Homo sapiens: one gene and its partner. The protein of the gene in region 1 purifies or fractionates together with the protein of each later gene. This does not show direct contact. Each region holds a gene or a part of one and is shown on either strand. Other genes may lie near its edges.

Region 1 (8,743 bases):
AACAACGACAGGAAAGAAGCCCCTGGGAGAGGGAAAAAAAAGGTTCTTAATATTTACACATTTTCTATTTTCAAAATAATTGCTAACCAAGGAAAAAGAAAGTATCCTGTTAAAATTCTGAATAATTGAGGGTCTTCAAACTTAGAAATAACTACAAACTTAATTAAAAATTTTGTGATTGTTGGTAAAAATGTGACAAGTACATGAGGCCTAGCTATATATAACTCAGATTATGAGTTAGCTCAACTGCTGAAGATTTCTCCAACTATGAGTTGTGTGGGGTGAAACTGATAAAAAGAAAGGGGCTGTTGAGACCATATGTGTAGAACCATGAAAATAATAATAGCTATCATTTACTAAGTAAGTACTAAGGGTCAAAACATTTAGTTAACACTAAGAGACTACCTGCCAGATACTGATCCTCACAGTATGTCTCATTCTTTCTTGGTAGAAATACAAGTCTACAGAAGTTAAACAGCTTCTAACCAGTTTAAAATTGACAGTAGATCAGTTAAGCTACCTCAGTATAGGAAGAGAATGAAATAGTTTATTTTAAAAATGCAAAGAAACTAAACTTTTCCTGGGTCTTAAAATATGTAGTGATACTGTGAAATATATATTTGGTCTTTGACCTCATTTTCTGGCTTACAACTCCTAAAATACTTAAGAGTCTCTACAAGGTGATGTCTTTTTGTATACTAATGAGTTATCATCAATGGTTGGCAGCCCCTAGGCAGCTTCAGGATGGGGGCTGGTCACCAGAAAGACCAAGGCAAGATTAGAGGGCTGGAAATCTGAGCCCTACCTCCTAACCTCCACGAAGGGGAGGGGGGCTGTGAAGCTGGTCACTCATGGCCAATAATTTAATCAATCATGCCTAGTAATGAAGCCTCCATAAAAACCCAAAAGGACAGTGTTCAGGGAGCTTCCGGATAGCTGAACACAAGGATGTTCTTGGAGGATGGTGGGTTGGGGAGGGTGGGGGGGGATCTGCGACCCTCCCCCCTTTCCTTGCCCTATGCATCTCTTTATTTGTATCCTTTGTAATATCCTTTATAATAAACTAGTAAACATCAGTGTTTCCTTGAGCTCTGTGAGCCTCTCTAGTAAATTAGTCTGATCCAAACAGGGGATCGTGGGAACCCCAACTTAGAGCTGATCAGTCAGAAGCATGGGTAAAACAACCTGGGGCTTGTGGCTGGCATCATTGGGAGTGGAGGACAGTTGTGGGACTGAGCCCTCAACCTGTGTGATCTGGAGCTATCTCCATGTAGACAGTATCAGAACTATATTGGGAGGACACCCAGCTGTTGTCTGTTGCAGACAACTAACTGATTGCGATATCGGGAAAACCCCCCACCCATTTGGTCACAGCAGTCTTCTGTGTTGATTGTGGTAAGACGAGTACAGAAAAAAAGCTGTTTTCTTCACAGAGTTAGATAGGGATGAAAATACTACAATGAATACAATTCAGAAGTTAAGCAATAAGATTCTGTTATGGATCTGCAGAAGTCAAAATAAAGAATTAAACAGAAAGCAGAATTTTTAAATTAGACAAGTATTTATGTTGATGGTGTATGTGCGTGTTTCAAAGAAAATCACAATCATTTTCTAGTAGTAATGAATTCAAAAGATCATTTATTTTGTTTTAAGTATTGTTTTAAAACATAAAAATGTGTGATTTCAAATGCCATTATTTAGGGTTATAAATATCTAGAAAAACAACATCAAAGACCCTTGGCACTAAATCTCCAGCTCAGAATATCTCAGAACACAACAAAACCCAACAACAAAAACTAGTATTTATACCACAAAGCTCTCTAAACCACGAAACCTGTGTATTACTCCAAGCTTGTCGATGATACTAAGACTTCCCATTTTTTATTCATCTCAAAGATCAGCTTTGGCTTTTAACCTTCATTACTAAAACCCCCACATAACTGGGAAAGCCAATGATTTTCTTACTTCTTAAGGTGCTTAAGTTTTCTGCTGCAAGATACATCTGCCAAAACAAACTCTTCTTCACTCTTTTCTCTCTTAGCCACTATGATCTTTACTCCTAGTTCTTCTCCCACCTCTTTTCCTAGTCTCTTCTAGTGTTTTCTTCTTTTTCTCCACCTACCCTAAAATGTCAAAAGTACTCCAAGATTCCAGTCTTATCACTGTATATTCTGTACTGTATTAACCGCCTCTTGACTGGCTCCCCTGACTTCAGTTTTTCTCTTTAATACCTACTTTATCCTGATATCAGAACAACCTTCCTAAAACATCTACCCTGTTGTACCACCTCTGGCTTAAAAACCTCTGTGCCCCACTCCCCCGACCTTCTCCAAACACTGCTCCCCCAGCCCAAATTTGGTTACAGGATAAGGTATACTTTTCTCAACAAGTCATCAAAGAAAGTTTGTAACCTGGCTCCAGGCTTCATTTTCAGTTTCATTACCAACCATTTCCTTCAACTGATCACATGCTCCTGTTCTATAAGAGTATTCATTCTTTTCAGAACAAGCTGTGTGTTTTTATGGCCCTGTCTGTTCCTTCTGTTAACTGTCGTTCCCTTTCTCGTTTATAGGATAAATTCTTACCCATTCTTCAAAGCCCAGTTTATCAGTTAACATTTCTCACCTCTCCTTGAATTTACTAATTTTTTAATCATGCTTCCACAATATTCTGCATACACATTTATAATGGCATTATGACTATATCCTATTGGTATTTTTAGAGTCTACTTTCCATAATAGAAATGAGAGATTTTCTAAAGCAGATTTGGTACTTAATTTATTTTTATGTCTCCTGTGGGTAATACAGTGCCTGGCAGACAGAAGACAAAGGATATGCATTTCTGGAATAAATAATTAAGCTCAACCCTACTTAAAGTTATTTTCTTTTCTGTTTTTTTTTTTTTTTTTTTTTTTTTTTTGAGACAGAGTCTCGCTCTATTGCCTAGGCTGGAGTGCAATGGTGTGATCGGCTCACTGCAACTTCCGCCTCCCAGGTTCAAACAATTCGCCTGCCTCAGCCTCCCGAGTAGCTAGGATTACAGGCGCCTGCCAGCATGGCCAGCTAATTTTTGAATTTTTAGTAGAGACGGGGTTTCATCATGCTGGCCAGGCTGGTCTTGACCTCCTGACCTCAGGTGATCCGCCCACCTCGGCCTCCCAAAGTGCTGGGATTACAGGTGTGAGCCACCGCACCTGGCCAAAGGTATTTTCATATAGATATATACACATACTATTGTTTATCTGCTAACTGGCATTTACAAAATATTACCTGCTCAAAATCTCCCATAGTAGTGTATTTGGTAAACAATCTTCTAATACGTATATGTGCTAAATAAATTTCCATCAAGTAGCAGTAGCTATGAAGTATAAGATTCTACACACCAAAATGCTGGATCTATCTATCTATCTATCTATCTATCTATCTACCTACCTACCTACCGATTGATCGATCGACCGACCTACCTACCACTATTTAGTTGATACAAATATCCAACATAAAGATGGTGCCTTAAAATGCCAATAAAATAAACTTTATTGTGCTGACAAAACAAGATAATTTATACCATTAGGCAATCATTCACATGTGATAAAACATTTTTATAGTTGCTTCATCTAAATCTATAAGATTCAACCTAAATAAAATTCCATTTAAGGAAATGATCATCATCTTACTCCAACTGATGCAAATATCTGAGTTTTTGTACTAACTATCTGACACACTGATTTACTGAAAGAGACAATAATATGCCTTACCTGAACAAGAGAAAAAATCCATAAATTTCGAAGATCATGCCTATCAAAGGCCAACCAATAAGGACTACAAATACACCACCCAGAAAAAAACCTGTAGCTTTCATTTTATGTTTTTGGAAGAAGAATCTGAATGTTCTTTCTAAACCAATTACAAAAGCCAAGCCGGCTACAAATAAAACCTAAAAGAGAAAGAAAATACAACACGGAAAAGGTAATTAAACACAATGCATAAATTTTAAACGTAAAGTCAAAGCTAAATATAAAAAAAGAAGCACATTTGTTTGGCTTTTAATGTGGGCAACTGGCCAGACAGAACTGTAATGTACAACCAAGCAGCAGAACCAAGGAGTGGGTTATGCATTTTAAAGTTGTAGCTTTGTTCCACTTGTCTCATTCCTCTTCTATCTTGATTAAATGGAGAAAAAGAGAAACAAAGAAAGATTAGACGTTACCAAGGGGCATCTGTGTCTGCAGTAGTTTTCCTAGTTTTAGCTGGATGAGGAAGGCTTAGTCAAGCAGATGAGTTGGCAAGGCATAAAGAGGAAAGCTGCCCATAAATATGTCACCCAAGGGTATTCCTCTTGGTTCTGAAATATTCATCATAGGCTACAGGAGTTTCTATGGATGGGAGAAATATTGACATGGCTAAGTTGATAGCAGAAGAAACAACGTGAAGCCAAGAAGATTCTAGTTTTATAAATTCTAGAATATCTGGTGGCAGCAGAAATAAAAATACAACCATGTGTTTTCAAATATTTTGAATGTATTCTGTGGACAAGAAATGGTGATGGATTAAGAGCTTGCTTTCCCCAGGTTTTCTTTCCAAATACTTGCCCTCCCCATTAACATTCTTTAGTGAAAAATATTTCGCACAAATACATATTAAGCCTAATGGTTAAGCTTCATATTCTAGGATACTAATGCTATTATCATTTATTAAGACATCAATTTTGAACAATTTTGCTATTCTTTATCTTTTCCCATTTCCAGTTAAAAGCCCAAATATATATGTGTGTGTGTATATATATATATACACACACACACACATACAGTGTCTTCACTACCTTAGAAGGGTTATTATTTATTTCTGGATCATAACCTCCACACATGAATAGCATAGTACACATTCCAAATAAACAACATAGATCCCTTTCTAAGCAAGTCAACCATTAACATAGAAATATATATTTTTAAAAAGGTTAAAAAAATCTATCTTATGCAGCTGAATCAAATGTGAAGTCTTGGATGTTTAAAGTAAAAATACTTTAGTGATTTATCAAGACATGAAACTATCAAGTCATCTATTTTGAACTCCTATTTAGAGGCAGCCTTCATTTAATCTATTGTAAATCTCATGACAAACACTTAACAGAGTAGTTATGGAATTAGAAAACCTCATTAAGTGTTTACCTTTTATTTAAACAGAAAGCTGACAGGTTTCATTCCTGATGGAAATAGAGAATGTAACAGGAATTACTTATGAGTAATAGTGAATTATTTTCCCCAAATTTAATAGCAGATAATAATTCATTCGTAGTTAAAATTTCCTTATAAATTTAGTTAAAATATATATTTAAAAACTCACATTTCCAATAGCCAGTAGTGCTTTGTCAAAAAAGAGAATCATTCCAAAGAACAGGAAAAACACTCCAAATCCTGTTAATCCCATTCCAATTTCTGCAATATAAGGTATATGGTTAAGGGTAGAGAAAAATTAAAGTCACATTAACATCCCTGTAAACTAAGAAAATTTTCCAGTTTTCCTTTCATAGGTATAAGAAAACAGGTACCCAACATTGCAGGTTAACTTCATAATGACATTTATTTAGCTCTTATAACAAATTAATTATCAGCAAATTATTTCAAAATTTAAAACATGAATGAAAATTTCTAAGCCTTATATGGGAGATAGCATTTCTCAGACATAGCTATAATAAAAAAGATAAATCGGGATTCTAAACCTTTGGTTTTAATATGTAATTTGTTTTTTTCCTCCTGAAAAGCTCTCTCGCATCAGACATAAATGTATAGGTTTCCTTAATTACTTATCTCCTTTCACATTCTATAATTATTATTTAAATGCACAATATCTGTAGTTCTTTCTTCCTCTTAAAATTGATTCCTTCTTTACTGCATTAGAAATGTTATGGTAGGTCCGCACAATCAATATCCTTTATCCAATTATATACTGCTTGTCACAATGGCAACAAGAAATATTTCGAAAATCATGGTACCAGTATTCTCAAAACCAAATTTTCAGAAGGTCAGGCATCACTTTTAATTTCTTGATTACTTATTATGGACTTATCTACAAATTTACCTAAACTATAAATCTACTTAAATATTTGGTCTAGAGTCCTAAAATCACCTCTCCGAAGTTTCAAAGAATACTGTTTTACCTAATATTAATATTCTAGGTTTTTCATGTTTCATTAGTTTCATTAAAAAACAAAGAATTGTTGATCAACTGCCAGATGCAAGGAACTGTTCCAGGTACTGAATATACAGTGGTAGACGAGGTGTAAGCTTTAAAGTCTATGTTTATCTTGTATATAAAATTAATACTTTTATTGACTGTGCATTCTCTAGGTCTTATTTTTTTAGTATGAAAAGTCTTAACTTCTAAGGTGACAGATGTACTCTTCTATTAATGTTATAAAGCACAATTCACTAAGTTACCTCCTTGATCATTTTAGTTTTGATTCTAGAAAATAGCCATTAATCCGTAGTTTAGTTAGAAGCACAATCTGCATACAGATGAGTCAGAGTAGAAGCCACCGTATTTTTAGAAGCACAATTTAAAATACCCTATCACTGATTTCTGATCTATTGCTTAACTTTTTTGCCTCAGCTCCAGAAAGCTAAAATCTAGGTCACAGCTACTTAAAAAACTCTTAAGTCATATAAAATGTTCTGATAACTTGAAAACTTTTATCAACTTTAGCTTTTTCTACATTCCCCACCTGCTCAATTTCCTGATAACTAGTGTCTTCCATTGCAGACACCTTTTGTTCCCAAAGTTAGTCTAAAATAATTCAGGTACCTGGTCTATAAATACACCAGTTAAGTGAATTCAACACACATTCCTATGAAAATTTGAGGCTGATACTTTCATGATCAAAGGCCTTAAGAGAATTTACCAAATTAACTATTTGGATAGTGGACATAATTTCATAGAGGAAAATATGGACAAAAGAGCAAGTAAAATTCTATTAAATAACTATTTAGTAGTTAGGATTAAACATCGGCAGCTTTGTTAGTTGAAGATGACTAATTTCTATCATTTCACAAATAACCTTGATGATTACATAAAAATTCTGAGATGTTTTTAGAAAGGAAGGTATATGGAAAGACACCTACTATGTACTGAGAATTTACCACGAATTAGGCCTTATGAAGTGCTTCACATACCTTATATATAACTTAATACTTCCAATACTACTGGAATGCAGGTATAATTACATCTTTTTAAAGATGGAGGAAATTGAAGTTTAGAGAGTTGACTTAAGTTGCCTAAAGCCACACTTCTAGATAAGCATTCGAACCAAGGTCTTTTGAATCCAAAGCTCATGTGCTTAACCATTAATGCCATACCTCTTCCCACAGAATTTTTATTTTTTAGGTTAAAGGTGTTTGGTTACATGAAACTCAAGGACACTGGAGTATTCTGAACTTCTGGGGGACGCATCTTTTAGGGGATTCAAGTTTAATATTAGCTTGTTATCTAACATAGCCAAGTAGAACTATTAAAAATTAACTGCGGTCAAAAAGGCCAATCTCTGAGTATGGTTTACCGTGTTATGAAGTGTTTATACAAAAATTTTATAATTTCTTTAACAAAATTGTGAGGTAAAAGGTAGCACTGGTCCTATGGTTCATATGTGCAACCATGGACCTAGAGGTAATTCAGTAACTTGTTCTTGATCATAGAAGCAGCAAAAATGTGTGTGTGGGTGCTGGTGGTATGGAGGCAGGTACAACAGTCTGTGAAGTCAGCATTCAACCAGTCTTCTCACTCCACAGACAATGGTCCTACAACTACAACATGGGAACCAAAATATTCCACTACTTTATCCAGTACAGTCCAGCGGGAGACATTGCCCAAAACATCTTTGCCACAACTGGTACTGGCAATGACATTGCCAAGTAGCTCCTGATCCACACTGGTCAAAAGTCTCAAATTGGCCTCATTGTGCCTTTTTCTCACCTCCAGGATCCCCCTTTTCCCTATCCGTATGCATTCATAAGCCCTCTGGCTATCAAAAGCCTTGCATAGAGCTGCCTTCTTCCCATCGGAATCATATCCAGTAAAACAAACTTATCTTCCTTCACTCCTCCCACATGTTTAAAAAACTGTCCACAAGTTAAAAAAAATATAAAAACAATTTAATAAAACGAATCTGTCTAACATAAGGAGCATACTGTGGAAATTGTATAAGGAAAGACACGCATAATCTAATGGCAAACACTGTTAGCATTTTGATATCTTATTCACAATTTTTTAAAAGCAGCATTGTCTCTCTTACCATACCCTTTGAAAAACAGAAGTCAAGCAAGAATTCAATTGAACATTAACTGTACTGGAGAATGCAATTATCACACTAGGCTTTTAGACAATGTGATGAAATGAAGATTTAGAGGCAGCATGCCCCTCCTCCGCCCCTCTGAATAAGTCTTGTCTTTTTTGGGGCGGTGAGGAAAGTCCTAGAATGCCTTAAAATAATCATGAATTTCCATTTATTCTACTCTGAGCAGTGCTTGGCCACTCTCTAAAAACCAAAATCCCAGAATAATCCTGACAAATCACTTGAATGATGGCCAATCCCTGCAGTTAAACACACTCACACACAAACACAATTTGAAATCCAAAATGCATTTGGTTCACTAATCGTTTTATGTTTCAATCCACTGTTTCACCTAAAACATGTGACAAGTGAACAGCAAAGAGTAAAATTTCATTGCCCTCACAAAATTTAATGAAGTGAGGA
Region 2 (8,743 bases), on another chromosome or scaffold:
TTGTTTTAACATGTAATAAATTTGGTTAGATTCAAACTGCAAACTTTTTTTTTCAAGATAGAGTCTTACTCTGTCACCCAGGCTGGAGTGCAGTGGTGCGATCTGCACCCCTGACCTCCCTGGGCTCAGGGACTACAGGCACAGGCCACCATGCCTGGCTTAATTTTGTATTTTTTAGTGGAGATGGGGTTTCACCATGCTGCCCAGGCTGGCCTTGAACTCTTGGGCTCAAGTGATCCACCTGCTTCAGCCTCCTGAAGTACTGGGATTACAGGCATGAGCCACTGTGCCTGGCCTTCAAACTACAAACTCGGCTCACTTCTTCTTTTTTTTTTTTTTTTTCAGACGGAGTCTTACTCTGTCACCCAGGCTGTAGTGCAATGGCATGATCTTGGCTCACTGCAACCTCCACCCCCAGGGGTTCAAGCGATTCTCCTGCCTCAGCCACCTGAGTAGGTGGGATTACAGGCGCCTGCCAATGTGCCCGGCTAATTTTTGTATTTTTAGTAGAGATGGGGTTTCACCAGCTTGACCAGGCTGGTCTTGAACTCCTGATCTCGTGATCCACCCGCCTTGGCCTCCCAAAGTGCTGGGATTACAGGCGTGGGCCATTGCACCCGGCCCAGTTCACTTCTTTCATCTCTAGTTGTGCTGCTTATAATCTTTTGTGTTAAGTGTGGTTTACAATTAAACAGAGGCTTAAACACAGTTTATTTTATCTACAGAATTTTAGGCTGTCACTCTCTGGATCTCTCCCTTCCAAGATTCCTCCTCCCCTTACATTCCACTGACTCAGTGGTTGTGGCTGACCCAAATGCTGTCCACTGCTTAGGTTTTCTATGAAGGTTTAAGCCAGCCTGTCAGGTGCCCACTTCAGCCTGTCCTCTAGCTAAAAGCAGTAAAAATAAAAAACTAATTTCATGCTGTCTCTTCTTACATGTGTCAACTCTCTTTCAGAATCTGACTGCTCCCGTTCATCCTCCAGTGCCTTCGGGTCTTTGTTTTTTAAAAATTTTGTCCAGTTATATGCAGGAAGGTCAGGTCCAGTAAAAGCCTACTTGGCCATAAGAAAAGAAAACCATTCTGACATTGCTTTTAAAAATTACTTCAGATTCCCTGTATATGTAGGTATATAGATTCATTTTTTTTCTTTATGGAATCTTTCTAGCATAGATTCACTTTAAATGATACCAAGATAGGAATTATTTTGTATTCCTTGTTTGGTAACTCTTTTCATTCCACTTTAGCACCCACCATCTGCTGGGTGCTGAACAATGTAGTTTTTACTAATAAATTACGAACATTTTTACATAACAGAAGACACTAACTTTGACAGTAACTAGAAAAATAAGGCACAGAGCTAGAAGTGAAACTGATAAGCAGTAGCACCCTAACGCTGGGGAAATAGTCACATATGTGTAAAAACAGACAAGTATAACAACGTTAACTTAAGGCCGGGCGCGGTGGCTCATGCCTGTAATTCCAGCACTTTGGGAGGCCGAGGCGGGCGGATCACGAGGCCAGGAGATTGAGACCATCCTGGCTAACACAGTGAAACCCCGACTCTACTAAAAATACAAAAATAAAATTAGCTGGGCGTGGTAGCAGGCGCCTGTAGTCCCAGCTACTCAGGAGGCTGAGGCGGGAGAATGGCATGAACCCGGGAGGCGGAGCTTGCAGTGAGCGGAGATTGCACCACTGCACTCCAGCCTGGGCGACAGAGTGAAACTCCTCCATCTCAAAAAAGAAAAAGAAAAAGGAAAAAAAAAAAGAAGAATGTTAACTTCAGCGCTGTCTATAATAGCAAAAAATAGGAAAGAATCTAAATCCTTACCAAAAGAAAATAATATATTCATATAATGGATTACTACATAGCTGTTAAAATGAATAAATTATATAAATTCCAACATGAAAGAAGTTTAAAAACCTAATGTTGAATGGAAAACGTTATACAACAAACATGATAACATGAATGAATGGTTAAAAAGCATAAAACAATACAAACACATTTATTTAAAATAAACTGGAAGGATGTACCAGGTCCATGACGGTGTTACGTCTGGGGAAGGGGAGATGGAGGGCGTGGCCAGGTGGTAATCAAAGAGTCCTTTAGTTTGGAAGCAAATATGACTACCAATGCTAACAATTAACATAAGTTAATTCTACATATAGAGAAGATATGGGTGTAGGCTGCCTTTGTACTTTTCTATATTTTTCCATTTCTTAAAAAAAAAAAAAACAAAACTTTAACAACTTCAATGACTGTGTAATATTCGATTGCACAGTTATACCATAATATACTCAACCAATCTCTAATTGTTAAGACACCGAGATATCTGCCACTATCATAAACTGTGCTATAATGAACATCTGTGTAGTTATTTTTGCACATTTTTAAAAAAGGATAAATTCCAGCTGGGTTCCGTGGCTCACGCCTGTAATCTCAGTATTTTGGGAAGCCAAGGCGGGCGGATCACGAGGTCAGGAGTTCGAGACCAGCCTGGCCAATATAGTGAAACTCCGTCTTTACTAATAATACAAAAAATTAGCCGGGCGTGGTGGCAGGCACCTGTAATCCCAGCTACTTGGGAGGCTGAGGCAGGAGAATCGCTTGAACCCGGGAGGTGGAGGTTGCAGTGACCCGAGATCGTGCCATTGCACTCCAGCCTGGGCAACACGGTGAGACTCTGTCTTTAAAAAAAAAAAAAAAAAAAAAAAAGGGCCGGGCACGGGTGGCTCACGCCTGTAATCCCAGCACTTTGGGAGGCCGAGGTGGGCAGATCACCAGGTCAGGAGATTGAGGCCATCCTGGCTAACATGGTGAAACCCCGTCTGTACTAAAAAATACAAAAAATTAGCCGGGCGTGGTAGCAGGCGCCCGTAATCCCAGCTACTCGGGAGGCTGAGGCAGGAGAATGGCGTGAACCCGGGAGGCAGAGCTTGCAGTGAGCCGAGATTGCGCCACTGCACTCCAGCCTGGGCGACAGAGCGAGACTCTGTCTCAAAAAAAAAAAAAAAAAAAAAAAAAAAGAATTCCTAAAAACAAGATTGCTAGGGCAGTTCTAGGTCTGTTACATATTGCCAACTGCCTTCCAGAAAGGCTGTAACAATTTACATGTACTTCACCAAACTATATGCTTATTTCCTTGCATCCTGCCAATCTGGATACTAAAACACAAAAAACTATCTTCACTACACTAGGTATGTGAGAGGCAGGGATCTGATTTTCTTCCCCAAACTATGAGAGTCTATCATAACTTAATTACTCAGCAACCAACTATAATATGATAAAGGCTTCATTACAAGCTGTTACATAATATACCATAAAATAGCAAAAACAAACAGAAAACCACTAATTCTTTCATTGTTTCTTTTGCCTATTTTCCCAAACAACTTAAGGCAGAATATAATTAAAGCACTGTTTTTACCTTAGAAAGGAAGAATATGCAGATACACGTATTTAAAACTAGACAATCGGCTGTGTGTGGTGGCTCAGGCCTGTAAATCCCAGCACTTTGAGAGGCCAACGCAGGCGGATCACTTGAAGCCAGGAGTTTGAGAGACCAGCCTGGCCAACATGGTGAAACCCCATCTCTAGTAAAAATACAAAAAATTAGCTGGGCGTGGTGGCACACGCCTGTAATCCCAGCTACTCGGAAGGCTGAGGCAGGAGAGTCGCTTGAACCCTGGAGGTGGAGGTTGCAGTGAGCCGAGATCGCGCCACTGCACTCCAGCCTGGGCAACAGAGTGAGACTCTGTCTCAAAAAATTAAAAAAAAAAAAAAAAAGATAAATAAATAAAACTAGACACTGATGCATTTTACTGAAATGGTTTATGTTTTTATTTATTTATTTCACTGCAATGAAATGGATTATATTTTTAAAGATTTATTCATAAATAAGACAATTTTAAAAGGTTTTCACTTTTGAAAGCTGCAAGAAAGGCCTTTAAACTTCTTGGTCTAACTATACCGGTCTTCTTTAATTACAATCTAAAAACATACACTAATCATAGACTTTGGTCAGTGACAAATATCCTGAACTTCCATAGCCCTTTACATCTCTCACGCTAGATTAAATAATTCAGTTGATAATCACTAATAATTAGCATTTACACAGCACTTTATTTACTGCAACATACAAAGCAGGGCAAAATAATGATCATCACATTAACAAAGGAAGATGCTGAACCAATTAGACTAGTCATCTAAGGTCATGCTAAAACAGGAATTTGCCAGAATTAGACACTGGAGTTCTTGTAGCATAATTCCTATATGCCTTATTGCCCAAAAGTTACTACCTGTAAGAATTATGACAACTGAGGAAGAAATCTAGAATGTACCAGAGCCAGAGAATCATATTATTTAAATGATAATTGAAGACCATCTACTTCACTTTACATCCTCACTTTACAGATATTAAAACTGAGGCCCCCGAAAGGTTATGTAAGTTACTTGTTCAAAGTCATACTTCTAGACACAGCACAGCAAGAATTAGAACCTAGTACTCTTTAATCCAAATTCAGTGAGCTTCAAATGCTAGAGTATAAGAGCTATCCTTAATTGGTAATTCAAAATTTTTGGTTTATCAAAAAGCCTCAATGTCTTTCACTGATAATTGTTAGTGAAATAATTCATATCATTCATTCAACAAATAATTATCCAGTACTACTTATGTGGCAGGCCCTGTATTTGGTGCTAAATCTGACTGCATATTTACTATGTGCTAGGCACTGTATTACCTGCATTTTCATATTTAATCCTCACAATACCATTGTAAGGTTAAGTACAATTTATCTATTTTAAATATTAAAACTTAAAAAGATAAATCTACCTACAGTTTCCAGTAAGAAAATGCCTTTATAAAAAGGCACAAAATCAAACACAAAATACATTTAGCCTAACAAAAATCTAATTTTCTTGTAAATACTACAACTCTGTGTATGATTTCATTTGATAAAAGATCTATAATCAAATAGTTTAAAAACCACAGACCTCTACATAGCACCTAACACTGACCATACAGTAGATGTAAAACTTGGTATTACATTAAAGGATGGGGGTCCCTTGTAGAGGGGCTTGAAAGATCCTTTTTTTTTCTTGTACTTTCCAAGATCCCAGAATAGACAGCATTTGCAGTAATCTAACTGAAAGCCACTTGCTAGAAAAGTGATCATTTGAAATAGATAAAAGACAAGAGAAGGGGTTTCTGGTACCATCTAATAATGAGTTTTGGCCTGAAGAATATTAAATAAGATAGAAAGTAGAAGAATGCATGAGTTCTCCTAAGCATTACTCACAAAATAGTACTACAATACTGGTTACCTACTTTCAGAGCATAAAATCTCTATAGTATACGATCACATTAATTAAAAGTTTCATTTACTATCTTTCCCAGCAGGAATTCCTTTATCTTTGATTGCTAAGATTCCACAAAGCACATATCAAAAAATCCAAGTGCTAAAAAGTATGACAATTATGGAGATTTAAAAACAAGCTTTGTAAATAAGTAAGAACCTGATGATATTAGATTCTCACCTAATATCACCTTAGGGGCAACCTATAAGAAAAGAAGTACCTTGAAATATAACTGGAGCATAGAAAAAAAATTTTCTTTTTTTTTTTTTTTTTGAGACAGAGTCTTGCTCTGTCACCCAGGCTGGAGTGTACTGGCGCGATCTCATCTCACTGCAAGCTCTGCCTCCCGGGTTTACGCCATTCTCCTGCCTCAGCCTCCCAAGCAGCTGGGACTACAGGCGCCCGCCACCACGTCCAGCTAATTTTTCTGTATTTTTAGTAGAGACGGGGTTTCACCGTGTTAGCCAGGATGGTCTCAATCTCCTGACCTTGTGATCCGCCCGTCTCGGCCTCCCAAAGTGCTGGGATTATAGGCGTGAGCCACCGTACCCAGCGAGCATAGAAAAAATATTTAGGGGAAGATTAATGTTACAAAGTGGTCTACTGCTTTGGGAAATATTGATATTAAGGAAACCAAATCAAGCAATCATTTAAAAAAAGACAGGAGAAGAATCTGCCTTTCCCATCATACAGCATATTGTTTTTGTATTTTAGCCATAATTTTGTAGGTATAAATCAGACTAACATAAATGGCACGCTGATAAGTAATCAATCACAGAATTAACCACATGCAGTATTCTAATATAAATGGTTACCTGAGAAGTCTGTCAGAAGTCTTGCTAGGACATGCTTTTTTACCAATTCAGTCTTGCTAAGGCTGGAAACAGCATCTACCCTAGTAGTTTCTCTGATAGTGATGGGCTTCTGGGAAATCCCAAGATCAGATCCATTCTTGACATTACGTTCTAGGATGTCATATGATCTCTGTGGCCAAGATTCTGGAGCAAATGTGAAAGTTTGCTTCAGTACTTCTTCAGAAGGCAATTCTGCGTCACGCTGTGCAGAAGTTGACTTCTCAACCTGTCTTTCACCTAATTCTTTAAGAGCCTTAATTGTGAGCTGTTCTTGTTCTAAGTCAAGAGATGCTACTGGAGTACCTTGGGTAGGGAAAACACCTAGAGGCTCACTTCCATTTGTTTCTTTGCTTTGTTCACTGTATTTGCTTCCAATGTCTTTAATTTCAGAACCACCGGACTCATTTTCATGTAAGACTTCTACAGGAGGAGTTGTTTTAAAGTCTGTCATCTTCTCTGATATTGCTTTAAAAGCATTTCTTTCACTATCTACTATTCCTTTATCTCTGGTTTCTGTAAAGGCTGCTATCAGGTCCTCTGGGGAGGAATCATCTATATGTTTAACATTTTTCCCATGTAATGACTCCAAATAGGCAGATGTTGTCACATTTAATGAGAATTCTGTCTCATTAAAAACATTTGGAGACACTGTTGAAGGAAGTTTGGGGTTCTCAGTAGTAATAGGCTTTTCAGGAGCAACTTCACTCACATCTTCTAAGGAGACATTCGTATCGGGTACTTTTGAACATGCTGCCTCACTAGCTGGACTCCTTCCAAGAATATCAGGCTGATCTTGATGCAGCTCAGAGTCACTGACCAATTCTTCAAAGTTTTTAGATGTTTTTTCTTCTCTCTCACAACTGGGAATCTCTTTGATTTCTCTTTCACCTGTTTTTACAACAGCACTTGGAATGGAAACAGGTTTTTCAGCCTGAATTTTGTTATTTTCAAATGATGTATCTGCTGTGATGTCCTCTATTACTGTGTCATCAGACTCACCAGAACTATCAGCTTCTGTGATTTCTCCCAATGCAGAGCTCTGCCAGTCCATTTCATCTTTCAGGTGGTCATCAGGTAAAACCACTTTCACTGTGGCCACTCCAGAACCCAAAGAGTCACATTTCTCAGGTGGAGATCCAGGTAATTCTGCAAGTGTGTCATCCTGTTTCTGCATATTGCCTTGCACACCTTTGATACTGAATTCTTTTGTGGAATTCAAAGAGTCAGGTACAGGTTTTCCAGTAATAGCATTTTCTTGCTGGAGAGATGCTTCTGCCCAATCACCTGTTGATTTAGTGATGGGAGTGCTCCCATCAATAGAACATACAGGAGTTTTCTGATGAGTGCTAGTTTTAAGATTTACAACTGGAATTTCTGAATTATATTCACTCATGTCAAGTCCTGTAGTTTTTGTGATGCAGTCAGAAGATTTATCGGTCTGTTGTTTCACTTGGGGAACCAGATCCCAAGTCAGTATTTCGTTAGTAAAGTTATGCATATCATTCACGCATCTGGACACCTCTTCCAGTGCTGCATTTGTGTGTGAAAACTGCCTACTGAGCAATGCAGACATTGGGTAACGTCCTGCCTCTTTATTTCTCAGTGGAAAAAGCTTGTCATTAGTCTCTGAAATGTCTTCGGATGATTCTTTATCAGTGTGCACAGACCAGCTACCAAAATCATCTGTGCTCTCCTTATATGAGTCTTTAAATTCTTTGTCAAATGCTGCTTTGTCAATAATTACTTCAAATGGTGATTCAGGGGAATCCTTTTCAATAACATCATCTCCTGAAACTTTGGATGGAGACAAAGAATATGTATAAATGCCTTCTACCTTAGAGTACTCAGTAGGTGGTTTCTGGGCTGTCAGCAAAGTGAATCTGTCATCAGCATCCAATGCAGTTTTAGCCTCCCTACTTGATACCCCATTTGGGTTCTTGGTCTCTTTATCTATTTGCTCTTCCACTTGACCAATTTTCTTTGAGAGAAAAGCAGGATGCTCTGGGAAACTGGCTGGAATAGAAGGACGGTCACAATGAACTCCTGCTGCAAGAGAAACTGAAGAGTCTGATACGTTGTTGCTGGTCCCCTGAGGCTTTTCCATCTTTTTCATATCTAGAAGATCCAAGTGGTCTTTTCCTTCTTTGGCTAAAATAGGCTGGCTCCCTAACACATGGCTTTTTTCTCCATGTAGTATTGTAAGGCCAGTGTTATGTATTTCAGAAGATGAAAGAAAGGAAGAAGTCATAATTTCTGAAGATGGCTCATCAGAGCAAAGAGAGCTCAATCCCTCTATGATCAGAATTTCAAAGAAAAAAATTGTTTACCAGGTACAATTACACATTAGCTAGCCAAGCCAAGCAGCATGCTTTTTATTTTTTAAATTACATAAATATATATATACACACACAGGATGTATATATACACACATAAATATGTAACAAAACGATCAAGTTATCCTACAGGACATGCATAAAACTGCCAACAGTGAAACAGAAAAGCCATATCATGCCACAAACTGCAAATGATAAAA

Evidence for each region.
Region 2: the proteins of GOLT1B (region 1) and RTN3 purify together in Homo sapiens (affinity purification with mass spectrometry; 2 studies listed by BioGRID and IntAct, with this or other methods). This does not show direct contact.

The regions. Positions count from the first base shown.
Region 1 is NC_000012.12:21,503,574-21,512,316, reverse strand, and holds part of GOLT1B (vesicle transport protein GOT1B), read right to left. Parts: intron 5,433-8,743; coding exon 5,341-5,432; intron 3,935-5,340; coding exon 3,756-3,934; intron 23-3,755; coding exon 1-22. UniProt on the Homo sapiens protein: May be involved in fusion of ER-derived transport vesicles with the Golgi complex.
Region 2 is NC_000011.10:63,718,461-63,727,203, reverse strand, and holds part of RTN3 (reticulon-3), read right to left. Parts: intron 8,503-8,743; coding exon 6,172-8,502; intron 1,055-6,171; coding exon of another isoform or gene 1,038-1,054; exon of another isoform or gene 1-1,037. UniProt on the Homo sapiens protein: May be involved in membrane trafficking in the early secretory pathway. Inhibits BACE1 activity and amyloid precursor protein processing. May induce caspase-8 cascade and apoptosis.